2 separate regions of the Homo sapiens genome follow, and region 1 is linked to region 2. The links come from fine-mapping of genetic effects on gene expression. Tissue or cell type: whole blood. Region 2 holds a variant in brackets; the other region holds the start of a gene. All regions are shown on one strand. Distances are from middle to middle.

The links. PIP is the estimated chance that this variant, and not a neighbour inherited with it, causes the effect.
Region 1: C1orf115 starts here. The variant in region 2 is fine-mapped to the expression of C1orf115 in whole blood (TOPMed, PIP above 0.99). The same link has a PIP of 0.9 or more in lung and monocytes.

The regions. Positions count from the first base shown.
Region 1 is chr1:220,687,430-220,696,026 of GRCh38, forward strand. C1orf115 (chromosome 1 open reading frame 115) reads left to right here and starts at 2,934. Exons shown (of 2, transcript NM_024709.5): 1 at 2,934-3,282. The coding sequence starts at 2,974. RefSeq lists a silencer at 2,765-3,004.
Region 2 is chr1:220,727,536-220,738,901 of GRCh38, forward strand. No RefSeq gene overlaps it. Among named protein-coding and RNA genes, the nearest start is that of MTARC2, 15 kb to the right of the region's middle. The variant C/G (reference allele first, on the strand shown) is at 5,670.

The DNA.
Region 1 (8,597 bases), 41 kb before region 2:
AACTCTGTCTCAAACAAACAAACAAACAAAAAACCCTACAAGACTACCTAAGTTTTCACCGAGGAGCAAGAGACTCATTCTCTGAACAGAATAACTTGTAGAGAGACAAGGGAATGCAACATAAAGACAGTTTCTGATTACATCTCCTTAAATTCTGCTTGTTCACTGGTTATAGAGACTTAATCTGGAGATCAATTTTTAATTGTTCTAGTGTTTTGCCTTTAAAGGCAAACTAAATGTTGTTGTGATATTTGAACAGTATTTTGTACTGACAAAAACACATTTTAGGCCCATGGATGTTCTACCTTCGTCTCTATTTGTATTAGTCCGTTCTTGCACTGCTATAAAGAAATACCTGAGACTCAGTAATTTATAAAGAAAAGAGGGTTAATTTGCTCACAGTTCTGCTGGCTATACAGGAAGCATGATGGCTTCTGCTTCTGGGGAGGCCTCAGGAAACTTACAATCATGGCAGAAAGTAAAGGGGAAACACGCAAACATGGCCAAAGAAGGAAGATGAGAGAGAGAAGGGGGAGGTGCACACCACCCACTTTTAAACGACCAGATCTCGCGATAACTCACTCACTATTACTAGGATAGCACTGAGGGGATGGTGCTAAGTCATTCATGAAGGGCCACCCTCATGATCCAATCACCTCCCACCAGGCCCCACCTCCAACAGTGGGGATTACAATTCAACATGAAATTTGGTGGGGACATAGAACCAAACTATATCACCATTTGATAAGCAGCCTAGGGTTCTTTGAGGTCGGTTTTGTACAAAAAAAAAAGGGACTACAAGGGTCTCTGTTTGTTTATAAAGTAATAGTTGCTTTAGCAAAATTACAAATCTACAAATCTACTTTCTCTTAACCTTTTAAATTCAAATTACATACTGTTTTAAACTATTTACTCACCCGATAAAATTTTACAATTACTGTAAGGAGGCACTTTTACTGTTTAGTTAATTCTCCTAAACATTTCAAGCAACTTTTACAAATTTAATATTTGACTTTCTTTTCAAGTACTTCAATTCTATAACAAAACTCTAAGTAATTCTTATAAATATAGTAAGTTAAATTCATTTTCATACCCATTTCACCTGAAATTGAATTGTACATAAATTTTATATACTATTTTACATATAAAGACTCTATGTTTTTAAGATTAAATATAAGTCATTACTTATTACCTTATTACATAAGTTAAATAAAAGCGTAAATCAATTAGCTGATTACTTTTTTTTTTTTTTTTGAGACAGAGTCTCACTCTGTTGCCCAGGCTGGAGTGCCGTGGCACGATCTCCGCTCACTGCAACCTCTGCCTCTTGGGTTTAAGCGATTCTCCTCCTCAGCCTGCCGAATAGCTGAGACTACAGGAGCACGCCACCATGCCTGGCTAATTTTTGTATTTTTAGTAGAGACAGGGTTTCACTATATTGGCCAGGCTGGTCTCGAACTCCTGACCTCAGGTGATCCACCGCCTTGGTCTCCCAAAGTGTTGGGATTACAGGTGTGAGTCACCGCACCGAGCCACACATTTTCACTTTTTTAGAAATGGGGCCTACGTTGCTCAGAACTCCTAGCCTCAAGGGATCCTCCCACCACAGCCTGTGGAGTTGCTGGGATTACAGGTGAAAGTCACCATGCTGGCTCACATTTTAAGTTGGAATCACAAAACTAATTTCTTTTGCATCCTAGTGAACTAAATTGTCGTAAACATTGTATGTGCTTATACCAACATATACACGTTATTCTTAAATTTAATCACAAACTTTAATGTTAAAATATCAGTGTATCTAACAATCTATGTTATTTTATACCTAAGTATTTTTTTGAGATGGGATCTCACTCTGTCGACCCCTTTGGAGCGCAGTGGCACAATCATAGCTCACTGCAATCTCCACCTTCCAGGATCAAGCGATCTCCCTACCTCACTGGGACTACAGGTAAACTTTTGTATTTGTTTTTCTATTTCTAGAGATGAGGTCTCCCTGTGTTGCCCAGGCTAGTCTCAAACTCCCAGGCCCAAGCGATCCTCCTGAATAGCTGGGATCACAGGTGTGCGCCCCTACGCCTGGCTAATTTTTTTTTTTTTTTCTAGAGATGGAGGTCTCACTATGTTGCCCAGGCTGTTCCCCAACTCCTGGGCTGAAGCTATCCTCCCGGCCTCTCAAAGTGCTGGGATTACAGGCGTGAGCCACTGCTTTCGGCCCTTAATTCTACATTAGCCAGAATTCAAAGGCATTTACCCACTTAAGAAAATAGGGCACTCTCAGCTTGTTGAGATTCACAGTACACTGATAATGCTTATCTCACAGAGAGATATTCCTGAAAATCATGATTTTAAAGACTGCGCCATATGCTGGCATGTCTGCACCAGAATTTCCTTTGCGCCTCCCTGTTGGTTTGCTCCACTTTTTCACTGAGTCAGACCGTTGAACACCGTGGACACACTGTCTTGCGTTTCCGAATATTTCCTAGAATACGGACGTTTCCTAAGACTCACGATAAAGATTTTCTGATCGTCTCTCCAAAACCTTGCCACCAATTTGCACTCCCACGAATCCTGTTACCGTGACTATCTCGCCATGCCCTCCCTAGCACTGAGCGTGATCTCTAGTATCATTTTCCATCGTTGCTAATTTGAACATGAGCAGATGGAGTCCTATTATTTGGGGTCATTAATTTCGTAGCAAGTGCAGTTGAAGGTGTTTTGCATGTTCATTGTGCAGTGCGCGCCGTAGTCTGCACAGTTTGGCCGGCAGGTGGGATGAAGGGCGGGGCTGGCGGAGCGCGCCCGCCGCCTGGTAGGCCAGTTCGGAGCGGAGCCAACGCTATCCCGGGCCCCACGGCCAGGGGGCGCTGCGGCCCCCCCAATCCCCCGCCCCGTCCGGGCTGGGGCGGAGGAGCGGGCGGGGACCAAAGGTTGGTGTCTTTGCGCTCGGACCTTCGCCAGAGGGGCCGGGACATCATGACGGTGGGAGCCAGGCTCCGAAGCAAGGCGGAGAGCAGCCTCCTGCGCCGCGGGCCCCGAGGGCGAGGGCGAACCGAGGGGGACGAGGAGGCGGCCGCCATCCTGGAGCACCTGGAGTACGCGGACGAGGCGGAGGCGGCGGCCGAGAGCGGGACGAGCGCGGCGGACGAGCGGGGCCCGGGGACCCGGGGCGCGCGGAGGGTGCACTTCGCCCTCCTGCCCGAGCGCTACGAGCCACTGGAGGAGCCGGCGCCGAGCGAGCAGCCCAGGAAGAGGTACCGGAGGAAGCTGAAGAAGTACGGCAAGGTAGGGGCCCTGCGCCACCACTGCCCGGGGGGCGCGGGTGTGGTGTCCCGCGGGGGAGCGGGAGCCGGGTCCTTACCATCGACTCACCCAGTTTCTCCGGGCTGCACCTGCGACCCCTCCGCCCCCGCTCCCATTCCCTCGCCGGAGGGAAGCCGCGAGTTGCGAGTCGTGATAGAAACTTAAATCGGGGGTTGCGCTGGGTGGTCCCTGCTGTGCCTGCTATTGCGCTCCTGGCTTCTTAAGAACATTCTCAAGGGGCTCCTACCGCGGTGGTTTTTATGTAAGATCAGGAATCAGTTTCCTGATTACAGATGGGAATACTGAAGCGTTAGCGCGGCAGGTGACTTGGAGAAGGTGGCCCAGTTGGAAAGAAAGAAATTGCAACCCAGTGTATTTGTTTTCCAGTAACATCCCCTCCAGGATATCCCACTAGTTGAGAAATGTTTGGGTTACTCTCCCAAATATTCCCAAGGTTATTTCCCGAGCCTGGGAGCGCAACAAATACATAAATAGGCGCTCGTTGAATTTTTCTCGTCTAGCCAACTATCAGTGTACTCTGGGGCCTTCAAAACATTCTGCCGTTTGTCTCGGGGAGATGGGGTTAGGAAGAATGAATATGGGAGAAAATGACAGTTTCCTTCGCGGAAATCAAAGCGCAGATGCAGTTCCCAGGTGTCTCTGCATGGAAACAGTCGAAGCTGCTGCCGGAAGCTCTGCTGGCCTGGACAAGGCCACCCAGAATAAAGTCACAGAAGTTACTGTGTCCTGGCCAAAGGCCACGGGCCCCATCTGATTTATTGTCTATTTATCTGTGTTGCCCAATGCCGTCTTACACCTGAAGCCATTCAGTCTCCATGCCTGGGAGCTTAGGTTTATCATCCTCTTTAAAGGTATGTCAGCAGCTTCTGGAGCAGAATACAGGCAGGGGTAAAACTATAAAGTTGGGTCTTTCAGGCTTAGAGCCCTGCTAGGACGATTCATCTCTGCTTTGGGTCCCAGTTGAGCACAAAGAAGCCATCATGTCCCTCTCCATTGGTGAACTGATACTGCAGAAACCTCAGCTCAAGGACTAGGACTTGAAGATATTTTGGGGGCACTCATTATGCGTCAGGCATTGTGCTGAGCAGTAGAGATGCGAAAATGAATACAGTGCAGCCCTGCCCTAGAGAAGGGCACAGCCTCCCAGGGAGACACTGACATAGCTGGCTCCCCCCGCCCCCGGGGGGGCTTCAGGGCACAGAGCTCAGGCAGTTCACTCCTCAGCGGTGAGCTTGTAAACTCAGGGAAGTTTTCAAATCACGGTGACATGAAAACTGGGCACAGAAGGATGAGTTAAGATTTCACCAGATAACAGTGAAGTGGTATGAAGTAGGCACACTTCATCCCCACTAGAACGGCTACTCCAAAAAATGTCCAAACAAACCGAATAACAAATGTTGGCGAGAATGTAGAGAAATTGGAACCATTGTACATTGCTGGTGGGAATGTAAAATGGGACAGCTGCTGTGGAAAACAATTTGGGAGTTCCTTAAAAAGTTCAGTGTAGACTTATTCTGTGATCTAGCAGTTCCACTCCTAGGGATGTAACCAAAGAATTGAAAACAGGTACTCAAATCAATGTTTATATACACATTTTAATGGAATTATTATTTACAATAGTCAAAAGGTGGAAACAACCCAAATGTCCCTAAATGGATGAATGCATAAACAAGTGTGTTATATACATACAATGGAATAGTATTCAGCCATAAAAGGAAGGAAATGTACTAATCCATGCTACAATATGATGAACCTCTAAAAATATTATGCTAAGTGAAGTAAACAAGACCCGCAAGATCACATATTGTGCGTATGATTCCATTTGTATGGAATGCTTAGGATAGGTCAACCCATGGAGATGGAACACAGATTGGTGGTTGCCAGGGACTGCGGGAAAGAGGAATGGAGCCCATCTGCTTAATGGGTAATGTGTTTTTTCCTGGGGATGATGAAAATGTTTTGGAACTAGATAGAAGTGGTGGTTGCACAACAATGTAAATGTACTAAATGCCACCGGGCTGTACGCACTTTAAAATGGTGAATTTTATGTTATGTGAATTTTGCCTTAACTAAAACAAACAAAAAAAACAAGATTTCAGTGGATAGAGAAGTGGTGTCATCTCAGGTAGAGGGGCCATCACAAGCCCAGCTGTGGGCATGAAAGCTCTAGAGTGTTGCACGCTAGTTCAATGGACCCAGGAGGCCAGGTGAGAGGATGTCGTCAGGTTAGGGTTGGATCTCTCCTTTCTGCCCTTCAAAAGTGACTTCAGCTTCTACTTTCTTGGAGCCACCTGAGAGGGTCACCAGGCTCAAACATGGAGATATAAAGCAGGTGACCCCTCTTTGTTCCCCGAGACCCCAGCTCCCCTCTGAGAGAGTAGTTGGGTAGAAAGCTCTACTCAGATCAAAGAATTCCAAATGCACTCTCTTAAATGACACTGAAATAGTGGTTGAGAGATATTTTATGTTTCTTTGCATTTCATTTCTCAAATCTGTGTTTTTAACAGTGTTCCAGTTAATGAACTATTTTAGTAGATTTTTTTTCCCTAAATTACAAAGTGACAAGTAGCTTTTAAAGTATAACAGGCTGAGCAAAATGGATGTACAAATACCAAAAATGTCACGTTTAATGCAGGCGATTGTCATTCTGATCTTGTTTATAATGGATCACTCTTGATTGTTAAGCTTGTTCCCAGAGAATATGTTTTTCTTTTGTTGTTTCAAACATGTAAGTAAAATTCCCCCAGTGATTCTTATCACACATTTAAAGAACTGTATCTCTTAGCAACATCACATACCCACACATGCGCATGCCCCAGCCCAGTGTCTCTTTGAGACATCAACAGGGTAATGTCCAGGAAAGCAGTGTCTAGAGAAGACACAGACATTACTTGGTTCTTGCAAAGCTCCTCATTTAGCGGGAGAGGTACCAAAGGAAACACTCAGCCTCTTTCTACATGCTCAGGATACAGTAATGAGCACAACAGAGTCCCTGCCCTCCTTCTGTTACTGTGAGGGACCCTGTAATTTAAACTATTGAAAGCTCAGCTGGGTGTGGTGGCTCACACATGTAATCCCAGCACTTTGGGAGGCTGAGGCGGGTGGATCACCTGAGGTCAGGAGCTGGAAACCAGACTGACGAACATGGTGAACCCTGTCTCTACTAAAAATACAAAAAGATTAGCCTGGCGCGGTGGTGCATGCCTATAATCCCAGCTACTTGGGAGGCTGCAGCAGGAGAATCGCTTGAACCTGGGAGGTGGAGGTTGCAGTGAGCTGAGATCGCGCCATTGCACTCCAGACTGGGCAACAAGAGCAAAACGCGGTCTCAAAAAAAAAAAAAAAAAAAAAAGCTCAAGTAAGCCAGAAGTCATAGGAAATTATAGTCTTAAGAAACTTTCCCAAACAGACAACAAAAATATTGGGTTTATCTATCACCACCACAAACCTAAATTGCTATGTAATCAAAAGAAGCAGATGTTATTTAGCAGTAATAATAGCTGACATTGGGGGGCACTTATACTGCCTGCAGTTTGTGCCAGGCCCTGTTCTCAGTGCTTTGCTTACATGATCTCATTTACTCCTCTTAACAACCCAATGAGGTGGTTACTAAATATTCCCATTGTATAGGTGAGGAAACCGAGGCCATGGGAAATTAAGTAAGTGATAGAGTTGGAATTCAAGCCCAGGGCATGAGTGGTTAACTAGAAGCTTACATATTGCCTTTATTTAAAAAGGGAAACATAGTATGGGGGTTAAGGTCATAGGCCCTGAAGTGAGATTTCTTTGGGATTGAACTTCAGCTCTGCCCCTAACCAGATATATACATGTGGACAGATGTAATCTCTCTGTGCTTTGAATGATTGAAGTCTGATAGACAAAGGCCACCAGGGACATGCCAGTAGCCAATCCACGTTAGGTTTATGTGCTTAGGGCTACAAGGGAGAGTGCATGCCAGAGGAATTGTGGGGTCTTCAAAAAGTGGAGATCTCAAGTAACGAATTGAATATTTGAGTCTGAACTAAAGAGTTCTTCAAATCTAGGAGATACTTGTAGTCATTAGAAATGGATGAGACCATCTAAGGAGAGACTGTAGGGAAAGAAAGAGAGAAGGAAAGACCCAGGACTGAGTATTGAACAACACCAACATTTTAAAGTCTGGTAGAAGGGATAATTTAGCAAAGAAAGCTGAGGAGGAGCTCCCTATTTAGGTAGGGGAGAACTAAGAATATGGAGTCAAAGACGCCACATGATTATTTCATAAAGTATGTCAAAAGCTGCTGAGAGGTCAGGGAGAGAAAGACAGAAAAGCGTCCACTGGGTCAGGCAGCATGGGGGTTGTAGATGGCCATGACCAGACAGTCCCTCATGGGTTGGGGTAGGAGCCGGAGTCAGAGGGAATAAGAAGCGCAGACATGGAGGCAGTATATGTGGTTGGCTCTTTTGGCTGGCTTGGCACGATGGAGGGCAGAGACTGGGGCAGGATATGGAGTCACGGTGATACCCGAGCATGTATGTAAGCTAATGGGATCCAATGGAGAGGAAGCGAATGATGGAGGTGGTGAAGGGAAAGCCAAGATCAAGGTGGGAGAAGGCACTGACACCAAGTATCAAGGGAATGGCTTGGGGGAAGAAGACCACTTTCTCCACCGTAACACAGGCAATGCGGGAGAAGCCAGGGGCAGCCACAGGCAGGGCTGTTGAGAGTGGTGGAAGGTGAACGTGTTCCCTGACGATGTCTGGGTTTTTTTTTTTTTTTTTTTTTTCTGTGAAAGGTGAAGTGGGATCATCTCATGAAGGTATGGAGACTTGGGTGTGTTCGTGTGTGTTGCAAGTGGGGAGGCTTAAGAAGGGAAAAGGTATGAGGCAGTACCCGGGGGAGAGAGAAATTCATCCTACTGGACAGATGTGGAGGTTTGTCAGGTGGTGTTGGAAGTCAAGGTGAGATATGTGATTGTGATCAGGAATTTTAAGTTAAACCAGTCTGAGTGGTTATGGTAATATGGAAAAGTCAAAGGACTGAGAGACAAGGTATGTGGCCTAAGGCACAGGTTATCTGCATGGACATTGATATCACCAAGAGTGATGACAGAAGTTGAGGTACGGAGGGGAAGACCATGGGCAGCCGTGCAATAAATGTTTGGTGGTGGTGGTGGTAATTTTTCTGTTGCAATCACATTTGAGTCCTTTAGATGTCCCCTGTCTAGCACCTGACATTCCCTGAATGTCCCCTACCCAGCCTTGTAGAAAAGGAAGAGGAGGAGTGGTTACCAAGA
Region 2 (11,366 bases):
CTGTTGAGGGACATTTGGGTTGGTTTTGTCTATCACCAATAATGCTGCCCAAAACATTCTTGTATGTGTCTTAGTTTTCTAGTCTACTATTTAATATTATTGGAAACCAGGCCTCTGTTTTTATAATGATTGCTGTTATCATTGCCAAAGACTCCTCCTTTTAGTTATTGCTTCCTCAGCACTTTAGGATATTGCAAAAGAAAGCAGTCAGCTTGGCCCAAAGAAACCTGGAAAACATTGATGATTTCATTGTGGCCGCTTTGAAGGCAGGATTGTTTTTCTCTTGTTTACCATTAGATCCTCAGTACCTACCAGACATAGTTTGTTGCATGAATGAATTATGGAAGTGGGCTTTGTACCATGTCAAGCCAAGCTAAAGCAGTAAACCTTTCCTGAAGTTTCTATAGGTGAGACCTATATTTCCTTACTATAATATTCTCTCCTAATTAACCCACTGTCTTTATTATACCACATGCTCAGCAGAGTCACGATAAAGTGAGCCAGAGTGGGGAGTTTTTGATGCTTCTAATCTGAGTCCATATTGGCTTTTGGAATTTTTTCATTAATCATCCTAATAATGACTAGGAACATTCCAAGCTGTGGACTTGGGCTTTCTGTATGATACTTGAAATCCACACGGGCAGCTGGGCGCGGTGGCTCACGCCTGTAATCCCAGCACTTTGGGAGGCCGAGGTGGGCAGATCATGAGGTCAGGAGATCAAGACCATCCTGGCTAACACGGTGAAACCCCATCTCTACTAAAAATACAAAAAAATTAGCCAGGCATGGTGGCGGGCACCTGTATTCCCAGCTACTCGAGAGGCTGAGGCAGGAGAATGGTGTGAACCCGGCAGGCGGAGCTTGCAGTGAGCCGAGATCGCACCACTACACTCCAGCCTAGGCGGCAGAGCGAGACTCCATCTCAAAAAAAAAAAAAGAAAAGAAAAGAAATCCACATGGCCTTCCTCAAGGAGTATCAAAATCCTAAGGTACACACTTTCCTATACATATGATTAGGGAAAGCTGGTCATTTTTCATTATTCTCAAATTGTAAAAACTTTGAACTGGAAGAGAACCTCTAGAAGCTGTGCATTTAGATTTGGAAAAATGAAGGATGTGAGAGAAAACGTTTGTCATCATGATGGCTTTTAATTAGAGGAACTAATTGGGTGGAAGATGGACTTTTAGGTCTCAAAAACTAATTATTCATGCAGCGAAAGGAAGGGAACAAGGCCTAAATGAGGCACATGTACAAACTCTCTCTTCTTTTAACTGAGTATCTAGCATAGTCACCACAAGTCTAATTGGGCATTTCCTTTTAAAACTTCTCTTAATAGCTGCCCTGGTACCAGAGTGAGCTCCCCATTCAAAATATGCTTTTCAGCCTTTCTCAACAAGAATAGAATCTTTCTCTTGACTCCACACCAAAAGTTATTTTTCCTCCCTTTGAATCTCTATATCACTAGGTTCCAACCTCCCACATGACCTTCATCACTTTCCACCTTGTATTATATTTATTTATTTATACATTTATGTATATGTATATTTTATACACTTGATTCTAAGATTGTAGGGAGAAGAATGCTCCCAAATTTGTTTTGCAAATGTAAGAGTCTTGCATATAATAGATGCTCAGTCATAATTCATATGTATCAATATTACAGCTTGTGGTGAGCAAACAACACTAAAAGAGATAATCGTGGGGAAGATGCTGATGAGGCCAGGTGGGGTGAGCATTACTAAATATATTGATTCCCCATTTTGATTACTGAGAGACAAAGAAAGACATTTTCTCTCCTCCTTCTTCTTCTTCTTCTTTTTTTGAGACAGAGTCTTGCTCTGTCACCCAAGCTGGAGTGCAGTGGTGCCATCTTGGCTCCCTGCAACCTCCACCTCCCGGGTTCAAACGATTCTCTGGTCTCAGCTTCCCTAGTAGCTGGGATTGCAGGTGCGTGCCACTACGCCCAGCTAAGTTTTGTATTTTTAGTAGAGATGGGTTTCACCATGTTGGCCAGGCTGGTCTCAAATTCCTGGCCTTAAGTGATCCACCCGCCTTGGCCTCCCAAAGTGCTGAGATTACAGGCATGAGCCACCACGCCCGGCCAAGAAAAACATTCTCACACTGTCAAAGGCTCAAGTGAGTTATCCAAAGCAAAATAATTTATTTGAAGTTTTATATTTGTCTTTTACATATACACATACATATATGTAGGTACATATATATTTTTATTCTTTTATAAAGAAAAATTATTTATATGGTAACAATTGTGGAGTTTGGTTATAAAGACATGTTCTCCACCCAAGAGCATTTATTTTCCTTTGTTAGAAGTTTTAATGTAAAATCAGCCAAGATTCCTTTTGTTAAAGCCAACAAGTGTTTTTAGCACATCTTTCAGATGAATTAGTTTCCTGTTGTGTTTCACAGGCCAATCAAAGATGGGCAGGGATGGTCTCAAATTGACCCTTCTACCTACAGTGTTTCTGCTGTGTGCTTATAAAGATTGAACTTCTGTATTCTCATTCCACATCCATGAACACACACAACTCCAGCTGCTATTCAATAGATGAACTCTGATAAATGTAAGTTTTCTAGTACATTGATGGAATTTCTATAGCAGGATGTATTGAGCCCATTTTTTTATAAATTAGTTGACAATACAGTATTCTGTTTCACTGTACCCTTTGAAGGGAACATGAAAAGAGGGCAGTTCTACAGAAAAGCCCCCCACCCCAACCATTTCCTCAACCCTCTACACACTTATAAAGGGCATTGTCTTTGCCACTGCTGTTCATTCTCTGAGGCTTGGGTTCAAAGGCACCTCAGAAGTCTTACAGGAGAGAGGCAAAATGCAGGCCTACACTCTTTTGCTCCTTCAGCAGTGGACATGTATTAAATGTTCTCAGACCTCTTCTCCATCTGTTAAAGACCAACACAATCCCTAAATTGATGAGGGTAAGAGATTGGCAAATCTGCTCCATGTTACTGACTGCCTTATTCCTTCCCATTTTCCTCACCATGGCTTGGGATAAATTATCCAGCGTCCTAAGGGTTACTGTCAGGTGTCTCTGCACAGGCACTGTGCAAATATCAATTCATGCCCTCCCCCACCTTGATGACAGATTCATCTAAGACCATTTAAGCAATCCCTTAAATTGCTTGTGTTACGAAAGAAAGGGAACTTCAACATTGTTGGAAGGAATCTAAAATGGTACAGTCACTGTAGAAAATCATTTGGTAGTTTTTCTTCAAAAAGTTAAACACAGAATTAGCACAGGACCCAATGAATCCACTCCAATATAGACCCATGAGTACTGAAAATATGTTATCTTACAAGAATTAGCCAGGTGTGGTGGTGTGTGCCTGTAGACCCAGCTACTCAGGAGGCTGAGCTGGAAGGACTGCTTGAGCCCAGGAGGTCAAGGCTGCAGTGAATTGTGATTGTGCCACTGCACTCCAGCCTGGGCAACAGAACAAGGCCTGACTCAAAAAAAAAAAAAGAAAAGAAAAGAAAATATGTACATGAGTGTTCATAGTAGTATTATTAATAACAGCCAGAACAAAGTTCATCAACTGATGACTAGATAAACAAAATGTGGCCTATCCATATGATGAAATATTATTCAGCTATAAAAAGGAATGTTCTGTTGTTATATGCTGTATGCTCAGGGATGAAACATGGAAACATTATGCTAAATAAAAGAAGTCAAACACAAAAAGCCACATATTGTGTCATTCCATTTATATGAAATGTCCAGAATAGGCAAATCCTCAGAGACAGAAAGCAAATTAGTGGTTGCCAGGGGATAAGGGGAGCAGAGCTGGGACTGACTGCTATAGGTATGAGGTTTCCTTCTGTGGTGATAGAAATATTCTGGAATGAGAAGTGATCGTTGCATAATAGGGTGAATATACTACAAAACAATGGAATGTTGATATGGTTTTGTTGTGTCCCCACGCAAATCTCATCTTGAATTATAGCTCCCATAATTCCCACGTGTTGTGGGAGGGACTCGGTGGGAGATAATCGAATCATGGGGGCAGTTTTCCCCATACTGTTCTTGTGGTAGTGAATAAGTCTCACAAGATCTGATGGTTTTATAGGGGGTTTCCCCTTTTGCTTGGCTCTCACTCTGTCTTGCCTGCTGTCATGTAAGATGTGCCTTTCACCTTCCGCCATGTTTGTGAGGCCTCTCCAGCCACATGGAACTGTGAGTCCCTCAATCCTCTTCTTCTTTATAAATTACCCAGTCTAGGGTATGTCTTTATCAGCAGCATGAAAATGGACAAATACAATTGTACACTTTAAAATGGTACATTTTATGTTTTGTGAGTTGTATCTTAATTTTAAAAAAGACCATAACAATGCTTACAACCTACATGCTGTAGAGTAGATCATACTTACGTCATTATTTTCTGGTCATACTTAGGAAAGAGTAAAGACTGTCACAGAATAAATGAATGAATGGACGAATCAATTGATGAACTGATGAATAAGTAGAATGAAAGGGAGCCTGGGAAACAGAGGTCTTTTGTGACTAAACATGGGTGAGGAGACACTTCGTATAATTTTTTTCTTGGGCGAGTAGTAGAACACAGAGAGGTTGGAGGGAAACACTAGCAGGACTTGACTTTACAGGGAATTTGTTTTGGAAAGGATGTCCCCAAGCAAGGAGATTCTCTTCCCTTCCCAAAACACTGTATCCTGCCATAGCCTTCTTCCACTCTGAGTGGGGCACGTGCTGCCAAGATGAAAAGCAAATCTCCCTGTAGCAGCCAAAGAAAACAAACACAGAAAAAAAGCAAATGAAAACTGGGAGAGGAAGCAGGATTCTGCATCCTGGTTGATAACATCGTCAAAATCAAAGCCACAAAGACACACAGTCAGGGCCACTGATAGAGCTTAGGGGCCATCCAGGGCAGGGTTGACCAGAGGTGAGAAGGTCCCCGGACCCTCAGTGTCATCAGCCCAAGCCCCCATAATTTTGTAACTAATATTGATGGAATAACAGGGCCCTTCCCATATACAGGTTAAGACCCAACAGATGCCTCGGGTAATTTATTTACTTAACAAATACAAACTGAGATTGACTGTGCCTGAGATACACAGGGAGAGGCACAAGTCCCAGCCAAGGAAGGGCATCTTCTAGGTAGGAAGTTTCCTGGGACTGATCTCTCAACTTATTTCTTCTGGCCTGTCCCTTCCTCTCGCCACATATTCTTGGCACCCTGTCCTTCTCCAGGGCCTTTCCCCCTCCTCCTCCTCCCCTAAAAAGGAAAGTGTGAGGAAGCAGCCATGGGACCTCCCCTTTCTGGCTGGGTAGGCGCTCCTAGGTGAGACGAGGAACTCTGAGTGGCTCGGCTATTGCAGGAGCAAGTGCCTTCTCCTACTTCGGACATGGGATTGCTGTGAGGACCGAATAGCCTTCTGCTTCCGACAGAGTTTTATAGACTGCAAAGTATTATTCAAATGGCAGGGAAAATAGAAAAGTGTGGCATTGTTTCTCCCACACTTTTCTATGACTTCTGACATTTCAAATATAGTATTCCTCCTATTTCAAAATACTCTTAGTCCCGACTCTTCACTGAGTTGGGTAACAGGAGGTTGTTCCTTAGGACTTACTCACCAGAAAGGAAAGGAGGGTTTCCTTTCACTTCCGGTTAGAACCAG[C/G]TTCAAGCATTTCCTCCCCACCCTTCCGTCCAAAACCCTGATCACAGCGCCCCCTCGTGTAAATCCGGAGCAACTGCCCGGGAAATCCCCCGTCTAACCCGGGCCAAAGTCAAAAGCTGAAGGAGGGGGTCCGGTTGAACTCTGGGTGGGCGGGAACTGGGGCTCCTACAGGGCGGTGATGCCTACAGGGGACAGGCTCCAGTCAGGTCCGTTTGCTTCTCATTATGCTGAATATAGACCTCATATTGCCAGATATTTTGATTTTAAAAGACAAGCTAGACACTTCCCGATTAAAACAACTGTGTAAGCCAAATAAAACAAGCTATGGGCCAGGCTGTGGGGGGGCTGCAAACCGTCAGGAAGCTTTGATTTCTTGTGGAAAAGATGAAACATTGATGATAGTTAATCCCAACACATTGACAAGGAGCGATCCTGGTAACAGAAGATATCTTATATGATATATAAAAATCACAACTGTGAACATATTTGACAAGGAGAAAAAAAGAACAAACATTCTTAACATACTTGCTTCTGAGTTTTCCCATCTATATTTGCTGGCTATATACTGATTTTCTTAACTTCCTATATTAACCAGAATAAAACCAGAAAGTTTCAGTAAAAATTATGGGGAAAAAAACTCAAAATAGAAAAAGAAATTCCCATTAATTTTTTTCCCCACTATTTGGAGATAAAATCCATTTTCCTAAAGGTACATATTCACCAACTTCCAGAATGCCAATGCCCATGAAGGGTTTTTTGAGCTTTCTGGGGTAGAAATTCATAGTTCTTAAGACAACAGGCAAAGCCTGCACAATTTGTTCTCATCCCGACTGTTAGCCTCACCTCCTGTCATTCCCTTTGCTGGTCCGATCATCATACGAAACTATTTTCCTCCAAAAACATTTCTTTTTTTTTTTGGAAAATTGTATTTCTCGTTGATTAATTGCTTTTACTCTCTTTTCCATTTTTGAAGCTCCTATGCATGCGTTCTTCGTATCCCAGTTTACATGTTACCTCCCACTAACCTTCAAGCAGAATAAGCTGCCCAGCCCACAACATGCACTTTCAAAGCTCTAAGCCCATATCTTTAGGAAAACAATTACTATTTTTCTTATAATTATTTGTTTACACATGTTTTGATATTGGGAATCTACCTAAAGCTGTGTTGTGTCACCGATGAGCCATAAAACTTTAAAAATATCTAGTAGATTGTAGGCTGATAGGGAATATTTGCTGTTTCGCTCTCCCAGAGCCTAGTACACCACCAGAATCATTGCATTGGATTTTTAAATAATTTTATTTTTGAATTTTTTGAACAAGTAATACTTTTCACAGTTCAAAATTCAAAAAGCTTAAGTATACAAATGAAAACTTTCCATTATATTCATGTTTCCAGCCACCCAGTTTCTCTTCTTATTGGTACATGATGTTACTCACTTATGTGGAATGAAGTCCACATTCCTCTGCGTGCAGTATAATTTTTTCTACCATCTGTGCTTGTTTACCTTCCTAGTACACTCCTCTCTCCTGGCCTTTGCTCTCTACTTTCCAGCCAGGATTGAAGTGGCTATTTCCCGATATGCTACCTTAGCGATTTACTGGCTTCTCAAGATCAGACACTCTATCTTCCTCTATCATTATTAAAGACTACATACTAGCATCTAGCGTATAGCAGGGCGTGAATGAAAGTTGCTCACGCTTGGACAACAACTGACCCTTGTGCTTGTTCTCCTGGAGCCCTTTTGAGCTCTTAGCCGCCTCAGATGTTGTTCTGGGACACACGTTTGGCCGTTGAGGCATTACTTCCCTGGGTATCCTGATGACAACCCCCAAACCTAACCTAATCTGAATGTGTGTCTTCTCCTTGCAATCTAAAGAGGTGCCCGACTAATACACAAGTAACTCTCCCTGAGCTGAGCTGGTTTGTTCTCCCAGGTCAAATCCTCACAGGGAGGAAGAGAAACTTGTGGGCATGCAGAGATGTTAGTCACTATGAATGGATAAAACGGCACAGGGATACATATTATACATGTGTATAATATGTATAAATGTTTATATTTATATAATATGTAAGATATAATTTATAGTATGTATTATATGTAAATATGTATATATGTAAATATATACTATAAATTATGTATATTCTAAATATATATTTATAATTAATAATTAATTATACTATATAACTATGTACTTATATAATATATTTCTATTAAATAAATGTAAATATATAATATATATTTATATTAAATAAATAGAAATATATTACATATAAATCTATATGTATATAAGTGTGTGTATATATATTTTTTGTTACAAGGCCCTAAAGGCCCTAAACAAGGCTACATTGATTTTTAAAAATTAACATTGTACTTACTAATGTTTCAAGTTAAAAAATATTCTTTAACTTTGAAGATCACTATACATAGCTTATCATTTCATTCTCCCCCTTCCTTCCTTCCTTTCTTGTTTTCAATCACTTTTTTAAGGGGACTTTTGTTTTTGACACAGTCTTGCTTTGTCACCCAGGCTGGAGTGCAGTGGCATGATTATAGCTCACTAAAGCCTCAAACTCCTGTTTTTATTTTAATTTTTAATTTTTGTGGGTACATAGTAGGTGTATGTTTTTATGGGATACAAGAGATATTTTGATACAGGCATGCAATGCATAATAATCACATCAGGGGCTGGGCGTAGTGGCTCATGCCTGTAATCCCAGCACTTTGGGAGGCCGAGGCAGGTGGATCACAAGGTCAATAGATTGAGACCATCCTGGCCAACATGGTGAAACCCCATCTCTACTTAATATACAAAAATTAGCTGGGCATGGTGGCGCGTGCCTGTAGTACCGCTACTCAGGAGGCTGAGGCGGGAGAATCGCTTGAACCCGGGAGGCGGAGGTTGCAGTGAGCCGAGATCGCGCCACTACACTCCAGCCTGGTGACAGAGCGAGGCTCCGTCTCAAGAAAACAGAAAAAAAAAAAAGCCGGGCGCGGTGGCTCATGCCTCTAATCCCAGCACTTTGGGAGGCCGAGACGGCGGATCACTTGGGGTCAGGAGTTCGGAGCAGTCTGGCCAACCTGGTGAAACCCTGCCTCTTCTAAAAACACAAAAATTAGCCAGGCGTGGTGGCGGGCGCCTGTAGTCCCAGCTACTTGGGAGGCTGAGGTGGGAGAATTGCTTCAATCCGGGAGGTGGAGGTTGCAGTGAGCCGAGATCGCTCCATTGAACTGCAGCCTGGGAAACAGAGGGAGACTCCGTCTCAAAATAAATAAATAAATAAATAAATAAATAAATAAATAAATAAATAAATAAAATAAAAAATAAAAAATAAAAAATTTACATCAGGGTAAATGGGGTATCCATCACATCAAGCATTTATCCTTTGTGTTACAAAAAATCCAATTACACTCTTTTGAAGTGTGCAATTAAATTAGTATTGATTATAGTCACCCAGTTGTGCTATCAAATAGTTGACCTTATTCATTCTTTCTATTTTTTGTACCCATTAACCATCCCCACTACCCAAACTCCCAACTCTTCCCAGCCTCCGATAACCATATTTCTACTCTCTATCTCTATGAGTTCAATTGTTTTGATTTTTAGATCTCAGAAATAAATGAGAACCTGTGAAGTTTGTATTATTGTGCCTGACTTATTTCACTTAATGCAATGACCTCCGGTACTGACTATGTTGTTGCAAATGACAGGATCTCATTCTTTTCTATGGCTGAATACTCCATTGTGTATATGTGCCTCATTTTCTTTATCCATTAATCTGTTGATGGACATGTAGTAGGTTTCTTTCAAATCTTGGTTATTGTGAATAGTGCTGCAATAAACATGAGAGTGTAGATATCTCTTTCATATACTGATTTCCTTTCTTTTGAGTATATACCCAGCAATGAGATTGCTGGATCTTATGGTTGCTCTATTTTTAGTTTTTTGAAGAACCTCCAAACTGTTCTCCATTGTGGCTGTACTAATTTATATTCCCACCAACAGTGTGCCAGGGTTCCCTTTTCTCTACATCCTTACCAGAATTTGTTACCGCCTGTCTTTTGGATAAAAGCCATCTTAACTGAGCTGAGGTGATATCTTATTATAGTATTGATTTGCATGTCTCTGATGATCAGTGATGTCGAGTACCTTTTCATATGCCTGTTTGCCATTTGCATGTCTTCTTTTGAGAAATGTCTATTCAGATTTTTTACCCATTTTAAAATCAGATTAGATTTGTTCCTATAGAGTTGTTTGAGCTCCTTATGCATTCTTGTTATTAATCCCTTGTCAGACAAGTAGTTTGCAAATGCTTTCTCCCATTTTGTGGGTTATCTCTTCACTTTGTTGATTGTTTCCTTTGCTGTCCAGAAGCTTTTTAACTGGATGTGATCCCATTTGTCCATTTTTGCTTTGGTTGCCTATGCTTGTGGGGTGTTACTCAAGAAATCTTTGCCCAGTCCAATGTCCTGGATAGTTTCCCCAAAGTTTTCTTTTAGTCGTTTCATAGTTTGAGGTCTTAGATTGAAGTCTTTAATCCATTTTGATTTGATTTTTGTATATGGTGAGAGGTAGGGGTCTAGCTTTTTCTTCTGCATATGGATATCCAGTTTTCCCAGTACCACTTATTGAAGAGACTGTTCTTTCCCCAGTGTATATTCTTGGTGCCTTTGTGAAAATAAGCTCACTGTAGATATATAAATTTATTGGTGGGTTCTCTATTCTGTTCTATTAGTCTATGTGTCCATTTCTATGCCAGTACCGTGCTGTATTGGTTACCATAGCTCTGTAGTATAATTTGAGATGAGGTAAAGTGATTCCTTCAGTTTTATTTTTTTGCTTAGGATAGCTTTGGGTATTCTGGGTCTTTTGTGGGTCCATATAAATTTTAGGATTGTTTCTTTTATTTCTGGGAAGAATGTCATTGATATTTTGATAGAGATTGCATTGGATCTGTAGATTGCATTGAATCTGTAGATTGCTTTGGGTAGTATGGACATTTTAACATTGATTCTTCCATCCATGAACATTGAATATCATTCCACTTTTTTGTGTCTTCTTCAGTTTCTTTCATCAGTGTTCTATAGTTTTCACTGTAGAGATCTTTCACTTCTTTGGTTAATTCCTAGGTATTTAATTTTATTTGTAGCTATTGTAAATGGAATTACTTTTTTTGATTTCTTTTAAGATTGTTTGCTGTTGGCATATAGATATGCTACTGATTTTTGCTTTTTGCTTTTATATCCTGCAACTTTACTGAAGTTTTCCAATTTATTGGCACGTACCTACTCATAGTAGCTTTACTTATCCTTTGAATTTCTGTGGTATCAGTTGTAATGTCTCCTTTTCATCTCTGATTTTATTTATTTGGATCTTTTATAATTCTTATTTTTAATTTTCACGGGTACATAGTAGGTGTATATATTTATGGGATCCATGAAATGTTGTGATACAGGCATGCAATATGTAATAATCACATCATGGCAAGTCTTCTGTCTTTTTTTTCTTAATTAGTGTGACTAAATGTTTGCCAATTGTGTTTATCTTTTCAAAAAACCAACTTTTCATTTCATTGATCTTTTGTATTGTTTTCTTCATTTCAAACTCATTTATTTCTGCTCTGATCTTTATTGTTTCTTTTCTTCTAATTTTAGGTTTGGTTTGCTCTCACGTTTCTAGTTCTTTAAGATGTAGTGT